Homo sapiens: one gene and its partner. The protein of the gene in region 1 purifies or fractionates together with the protein of each later gene. This does not show direct contact. Each region holds a gene or a part of one and is shown in the gene's direction. Other genes may lie near its edges. The genes, in order: ATP8A2 and DDX46.

The links.
Region 2: the proteins of ATP8A2 (region 1) and DDX46 fractionate together in Homo sapiens (co-fractionation; one large-scale study listed by BioGRID). This does not show direct contact.

What each region holds. Positions count from the first base shown.
Region 1 is NC_000013.11:25,581,200-25,585,021, forward strand, and holds part of ATP8A2 (phospholipid-transporting ATPase IB), read left to right. Parts: intron 1-619; coding exon 620-758; intron 759-3,822. UniProt on the Homo sapiens protein: Catalytic component of a P4-ATPase flippase complex which catalyzes the hydrolysis of ATP coupled to the transport of aminophospholipids from the outer to the inner leaflet of various membranes and ensures the maintenance of asymmetric distribution of phospholipids.
Region 2 is NC_000005.10:134,782,719-134,786,540, forward strand, and holds part of DDX46 (probable ATP-dependent RNA helicase DDX46), read left to right. Parts: intron 1-226; coding exon 227-347; intron 348-1,647; coding exon 1,648-1,823; intron 1,824-2,746; coding exon 2,747-2,868; intron 2,869-3,822. UniProt on the Homo sapiens protein: Component of the 17S U2 SnRNP complex of the spliceosome, a large ribonucleoprotein complex that removes introns from transcribed pre-mRNAs.

The sequences.
Region 1 (3,822 bases):
TTTGTACAGTCTCTGGAATTTGCCCGACCAGCAGGCACAGTGCGGGCAGCTGGAGGGAACCAAACATCCACACCCATCCTCAGCATGAGCTGATCTGCCCTGGGCCTTTAAGAGGACCAAAAGGGGCAACATTTTATAGCTACCCTCAATCTTAAGATACTTGGATTTTTTTTCTCTCACTGTTAAATCCTTAGCACCACAGGTCTCTTACTCCTATTTTGCCAGGTAAGTGTATTATCTAGAATTAGTTCTCCTCCTTTGTTAAATGTGACATAATATGCTACTCATTAGTGGACTGAGAGGAAGGGCTCAGGTACTGTCAGTGTCCTCGGGATAACCTGCCCATCTGCTCTGCTGCCAGATGGCTTCTATTCTAACAAGCCCCTGTATCAAGAAATCAGTGATGAGTACTGGGCTGCCTGTGTGTGTAGAGTGAGTCCACCATTGCAAGGCATTTGGAAATGCCATCCATCCAGATGCCATCTGTAGACACAAGTATAAAATAGAGGAAATAGAACAACTGTCTCAGAACCGTTTGATTGCCTTTCTTTGTCAGAATTTGTTAGTGCTGTTCTTAAGTATGTGCCAATCTTTAACTGAGGATATTTTTTCAATGTAGAATTTGCTGCTACTTGGAGCCACAGCCATAGAAGATCGCCTTCAAGCAGGAGTTCCAGAAACCATCGCAACACTGTTGAAGGCAGAAATTAAAATATGGGTGTTGACAGGAGACAAACAAGAAACTGCGATTAATATAGGTAATTATTTTTACAAATAATTTCCTGATGCTGGGTTTTGTATTTGTTTTTCAAGTATCTTTTAAATGTGTCTAAATGTTTCTCAAATTCATTGACAGATGATGTTTTATAGGAATCTTCATTCACAAGGCTAAGGAAAATTGACCTAAATCAAATGAAGATGCCTCCATGCCTGTTACAAACATTAAAACTATCATAGTTCCTGGAAAAGAATTAGACACACTTACATAGGGCATAGAATTCAAGATTTGACAGCTTTGATTTTCTTATTGCTTTCTTCACAAAATTTTAGTCTGAGACTAAGAGAGCATGTTTTTACTAGGTTTAAATATGCGTTATTATTTTATGTAATTATAACCATTTTAATGGTTTTGCCCATTAATGGGCTTTTCTAAGAGCCTTGCATCTTTCCCTTCCCAGCTTGTTGACAACTTCCTTGACTGCAGAGCATCACAGAGATGAAAATTGAAGAAAAGGAATTTAAGTCAGGATAACTCTGCCGTTGTTAAAGGAGCACGTTTTAAGTTTGAAAAGGAGTTGAAGCTACTCATTTTTTAAAAATCTAATCTTGATTATTTGAAACATTTAAACACTATCTGGTACTTTGATCAGCATTATGGTGTAACAAGACCTGGTGCATATGTGGTAAAATGAACACTGCATAACTTAGAATAGCTTGCTAGAAGTAGACTCTATTTCTATATCTGTTTCTATGTCAGTGCTCTGTGTTTTAGGAAGAAACCTGCTAGAGCCTTTGTATTTAAGTGACTATAGTCCTCTTCAGAGTAGTCTTCTTGGAATATTCTCAACATAATCCAATGGTGTCCCTTTCCTGAAAACCTTATCTTTGAATCAGCTTTGTCTCTCATGTAACCTCAGTTGTAAATAATACCTGCCTTCTTGGATAAATTTGATTTAAAAAAATAGACAAAAGCCATGTAATCATTTCTTGTCAGGGATATAGCTAATTAAATGGAAGTTGGGCTCCCAAACAACGGAAGTTAAGCTCACAAGAGAGTAACATAGGATTCATAAACAGTCCCTGAAGAATCAGCCATAGACTTTGTCCCTGGATTTGTGCTGGTTGTCATTCAGATGCATGGTTTTGGAGAACAGTATGATGGTATTTTAGTGCAGAATCATCACTGCTACTAGAAAATACAAACCCAAGCTTACAGCCCTTTGATGATGTGTCAGTAGCATTTTTACAAATGAAGAATAACACATTTGCTTTTTGTATGCTATATTTCTGTATAAGTATATACATTGACCCTTTATGTGTTATTTTTCATATAAGTTTGGCCTAAAACACCTGCTATGGATCTGTGGCCCCTGTTGTTTGCATGCTAAGTTGACTGTTACCCTGAAATACTTACCTAAAATTTAGGTGATATGCTTTCCACCCTATTAGAGCAATGTGAAAAAAGTGGATAACCCCTCAAGTTAAAATTGAGCTGTAAAGTGGTAACCTTTCTTAGTTTTCCAGATCTTGAGCGTTCCCGCTGGCCTAATAACCTATGCGTGTCACTGGCCCTAGACTGAACTACCTTCAGTGTGTTCTTGGATGTGCCCTGGCTGGAAAAGCACCACAGCTCCCTCTCACTGCCTCTCATCCACACCGCCCGGCCCCTGGGAGCACACGCAGCCCTTTTTCGTGTGTGTTCATTTTATTATACCTGAGCCTATCTAGCTAAGTTTGGGATAAACACAAGAGAAAGCAAAGTGCTGAAAATCAACCCAGAAAACACAAATGGATTATTACTCAAAAACGAAAGTTTTACTTGTATGTGATGAGGCTGCTCTGAGCCTTATGAGATAATTGATACCTGTCCAAACAATTTTTTAAAAATAACGATTGTATTATTTTGTACTTTTTTTCTAAGTGGGTGTAGTAACGTGTAGTGCTCATGCCAGAACCGCTCACATCATTTGCTATCTCTTAATTGATCTTTCTTAGCAAGTACTCTCCAAGACCGCTAGAAGATGATGCTTTATAAGCTGAGGACTTTTTGTCAAAGTCTTATGTTTATCCTGGAGGCTTTCTCTATTCACATTTTATCTAGTGTATCAGTCAGATTCAAACACATCTTGGGTGTTACTAAGTAAGCTTCTAACAGCTAGACAATTGATTTCTTTGAGAGAGCTATGTCTGAATTGTTTCTTCACTTCACCTTTGGAACTGAAGCTTGTAGCCTTGGGTGACGCCGAGAATTTAAATGTCGTCTTGTGATTTAAAGTATCTGTCAAGCCTACAAATGATGCAGAAGGCTCAGGAAAGCATATACGTCCGGACATTTTATTAGACTTTTCAGTGTGGGACCACAGGCGGCAGCTGTCAGCAGCATGAGGTCATGCTCTAGATACAGAGTGGGTTTCTAAGCCTGTTTTCTAGTCATATAGCCCTCATACCCCTGGTAGTATGAACCATTATGGACCTGTCTCCCATAATACTTTACATTTTCATGCATCCTGTGTGGATTTTAAGGTATCCAGAAGATATTTGGGAAGATCAAGTATCTAGCAGTTCTCCTTCTAGATGAAAAAAGGGAAGCAGAGCAAGTAAATGGAGTGTCTGGCAAGTGCCAGGCACTATACTAGGAGTGTTTTCTGAAAACTCTTTTTTTAATATTTACATATGAACATTCTTATAGCTCGAGGAGGAAATTCTACATTTCCCAGGGCTATACCCTACTTAATGACCAAACTGGTACTAGGTCTCAGGGCTCTTGACTTCTGGTGTGGGGCTTATTTAGAGGGATTCACATAGCTTTTGCAAAAAATGCTTTCTGAAATTTGATTTAGAAGACCACGGAGAATGGTACTACATTTCATCCATTCCAAGGTGCACATTGTTTTTACATTTTAATGTCTCTGAAATGGGGATGTCGTATAGTTGTTGACTCTTAGCTTTTAATTGTCAGCATTATCTTAGTGGTATGTACCATAAGAGTTCATCTTTAGATTTGGTGACATTAATTATCTTTGGTGTTTGGAGGTGTTGGCTCTTTTTAGAGTTTGGTTTTTTAAAATATATATATCTATCTCGTAGTTTGAGAATTTATTT
Region 2 (3,822 bases), on another chromosome or scaffold:
TTTGTTGAGACAGGGTTTCACCATGTTGCCCAGGTTGGTCTTCAACTCCTGGGTTCAAGTGATCTGCCTGCGTCTGTCTCCCAAAGTGCTAGTTGCTAGGATTACAGGTGTGAGCCGCTGGGTCTGGCATAAGAGTTAAAGTTTGTTAATCTTATGCCTAATTGAAAAGTAGAAGACACCAATAGAACAATATTTAAGAACTTTTAATCTGGGTTTTGTTTTGTAGAGGTAAATGTGTTTCGATTGGAAATGGAGGGCATTACAGTTAAAGGAAAAGGTTGCCCCAAACCAATTAAATCCTGGGTCCAGTGTGGAATTTCCATGAAGATCTTAAATTCCCTCAAGAAGTAAGTGGTTGGTGGTTGTTTATGTTTTCCGTGTCTTGCTGCTCAAAATAGTCCTTCCACACCAGTGTCTCCCTGAGTTACATTTTTACTCTAAAAAAACCCTTACGTTTTAAAAAACTTTCATTGAGATAATTTATATATCAAAATTTACCCTTTAAATTATACAACTGGTTTTTTTTTGTTTTGTTTTGTTTTGTTTTTTGAGACAGAGTCTTGCTCTGTTGCCCAGGGTGGAGTGCAGTGGTGCAATCTCACTGCGCTCACTGTGACCTCGGCCTCCCGGGCTCAAGCAGTTCTCCTGCCTCAGCCTTCCGAGTAGCTGAAACTATAGGTGTGTGCCACCATAGCTGGTTATTTTTATTTTTAGTAGAGACAGGGTTTCACCATGTTGGTCAGGCTGGCGTTGAACTCCTGACCTCAGGTGATCCGCCCGCCTCAGCCTCCCAAAGTGCTGGGATGACAGGCGTGAGCCTCCATGCCCGGCCTTTTTTTTTTTTTTTTGAGACGGAGTTTCACTCTCGTTGCCCAGGCTGGAGTGCTGTGGCTCGATCTTGGCTCACTGCAACCTCCGCCTCTTGGGTTCAAGTGATACTTTTGCCTCAGCCTCCCAAGTAGGTGGGATTACAGGCATGTGCCACCATGCCTGGCTAATTTTGTATTTTTAGTAGAGACAGGGTTTCTCCATGTTGGTGAGGGTGGTCTCGAACTCTCTACCTCAGATGATCCACCCGCTGCGGCCTCTGAAAGTACTGGGATTACAGGCGTGAGCCACCAAGGCCGGCCTTTTTTTTTTTTTTTTTTAAGAGATGGGGTGTCGCTATGTTGACCAGGCTGGTCTCCAACTCCTGGCCCCAAATGATTCTCCCATCTCAGCCTCCCAGAATGCTGGGATTTCAGTCATGAACCACTGCGCCCTGCCTAATTTTTAAATTTTTCATTATCCCAAAAAGAAACTTTTGTCCATTAGTAGTCAGTCTTCTCCCCTCTCCCCACCCCTGGGCAACCATTAATCTATTTTTTGTCTCTAGAATAGATTTGGCTATTCCTAACATTTCATGTAAATGGGATCAAACAATATATAGTCTTTACTGCCTGATCTTTTTCACTTTACATAATGTTGTAAAGATTAGTCCATATTGTAGAATGTGTTAGTACTTCATTCCTTTTTATTGCCAAATAGTATTTTATTGTATGATATATACCACCTTTTGGAAGTTCATTTTTATGGGAACACATAGGACCTGTCTGGGGCCCAGCAATCTCAATTCTTACCTTTTCTTCCTTTGGTTTTCTTTTTAAGGCATGGCTATGAAAAGCCCACGCCCATCCAAACCCAAGCTATTCCTGCTATAATGTCTGGACGAGATTTGATTGGCATTGCCAAAACAGGAAGTGGAAAGACCATTGCTTTTCTGTTGCCCATGTTTAGACACATCATGGATCAGAGGTCATTAGAGGAAGGAGAGGGGCCAATAGGTACAATTCTTTTCATTAAACTATTTTTCAAATAACAGCTTTGTTGTCAAACAGAAAGACCTTATAGTTTATAATGTTCTTAATTATGACAATGAAGTTGTCTTTATGTACATTTTCTTTATCAATTTGGCACTTTGGGGCTGATTTCCCCTTACCAGCAGGTGGAGTGAGAATCTTCAGAGCTCTGGAGTGACATCTCAGAAGTACAAAAACAGCCTCTCCTGGCACAGCTCAGTTTTTAAACTCTGACTTGGCAGGTAGACTCCTCGTGCATCTATCTGTTTATTTATATTGAGGTTTGTTAGCCCAGTATCAGTGGATATATAAAAGCGACATGGAAGATATCCTAGGGAAACATATTTTCCTAGGTAGTTTTTGGCCTTAACAGGCTATAATGCCAGCATTTCATTCAAGATTACTTGTTTAGATTCTGGTTTCTTGATTCATCTTGGCAGAGATAACTCTTGGAAAGTTGAGTAGGGTTTTGGAAAGTTGTTCAGCTTCTCTCTTAGGAACACGGGGCATAGTATATCTCTCCTCTGTCTGTGCCCCTCAGACCAAGGTTGTTTCTGGAAGCAGCAGTATGGCTTCTGTGGCACAGTGAGTCACTTGATTTTCTTTGTTCTGTGATTTGCATTAGAAAACTGTTTGCATTCTTTTGAACCAAGTATTTTCCTGAGGGTTGGATGAGGCATTTAACTGTCATTTATCTTCTTTTAGCATGTTTTTAAAAATCTGCTTATATTTATCCTTCCCCACAACCTCTGCTGTTATACAACTTTTGAAATAGTTTTCAGGGATGCATAACAAAACAAAAATTAGGTGAAACAATCTGAACTTTATTGTAAAGGTTAAATTGAACACTATAAAGCACAGCCTTAAGAATTTTGGTGGTTAGGCTACTGATGTATTTATCTTTCCAGCTGTCATCATGACTCCAACTCGAGAACTGGCTTTACAGATTACTAAAGAGTGTAAGAAGTTTTCCAAGACTTTGGGACTTAGAGTGGTCTGTGTTTACGGAGGAACAGGAATCAGTGAGCAGGTAGTTATATAAGAAACATTCATGTTTTCCATTCTTTTCTCAAGTTGGATGATTCAATAAAGTAAAAGTGACTTTTACTTTTAGTTTTTTGAATAGTGATTGCTTCTAAAATCATTTAAAAAATGAAGTATAAAAATAATAGTAAGAATTAGTTATTTTATGTAGGATGAATACCTTTGGAGATGTAATGTACAGCATGGTGACTAGTTAATGTTATATTGTGTGCTGAAAATTCGCTAAGCCAGTAGATCTCACATCATGTTTTTTTTTTTTCTTTTTTGAGATGGAGTCTCGCTCTGTCACACAGGCTGGAGTACAGTGGCGCGATCTCGGCTCACTGCAACCTCTGCCTCCCTGGTTCAAGCGATTCTCCTACCTCAGCCTCCCAAGTTGCTGGGACTACAGGTGCCTGCCACCACGCCTGGCTAATTTTTGTATTTTTAGTAGAGACGGGGTTTCACCATATTGGCCAGATTGGTCTTGAACACCTGACCTCAGGTGATCCTCCTGCCTCGGCCTCCCAAAGTGTTGGGATTACAGGTGTGAGCCACCGTGCCTGACCAATCTTACATGTTCTTACCACAAAAGAAAATATTGGTAACTATATGAGGTGATATGTTAGCTTGATTGTGTTCATCATTTCAGAGTGTATATGTATATCAAACATGTTGTACACCTTAAATATATATAATTTTTGTTAATTATGACCCAATATAGTTGTGGCAAAAAAGAACATACTATGTTAATGCTAGATTAGAATTTTTGAATCTTTTTACATAGATTATCCCTCCTCCCTCTTCCCCTGCCTGAGAAAGCAGATTTTTTTTTTCATTTTACATATGAGGAAATATTCAGAAAGATTTATTAAGTTGACCAATTAGGTTAATACGTTCTAGAGTTTGTCCTGGAACCTAGGTCTCTGATCTCTGAGCATTTGTTTCTCTAATCTATGCT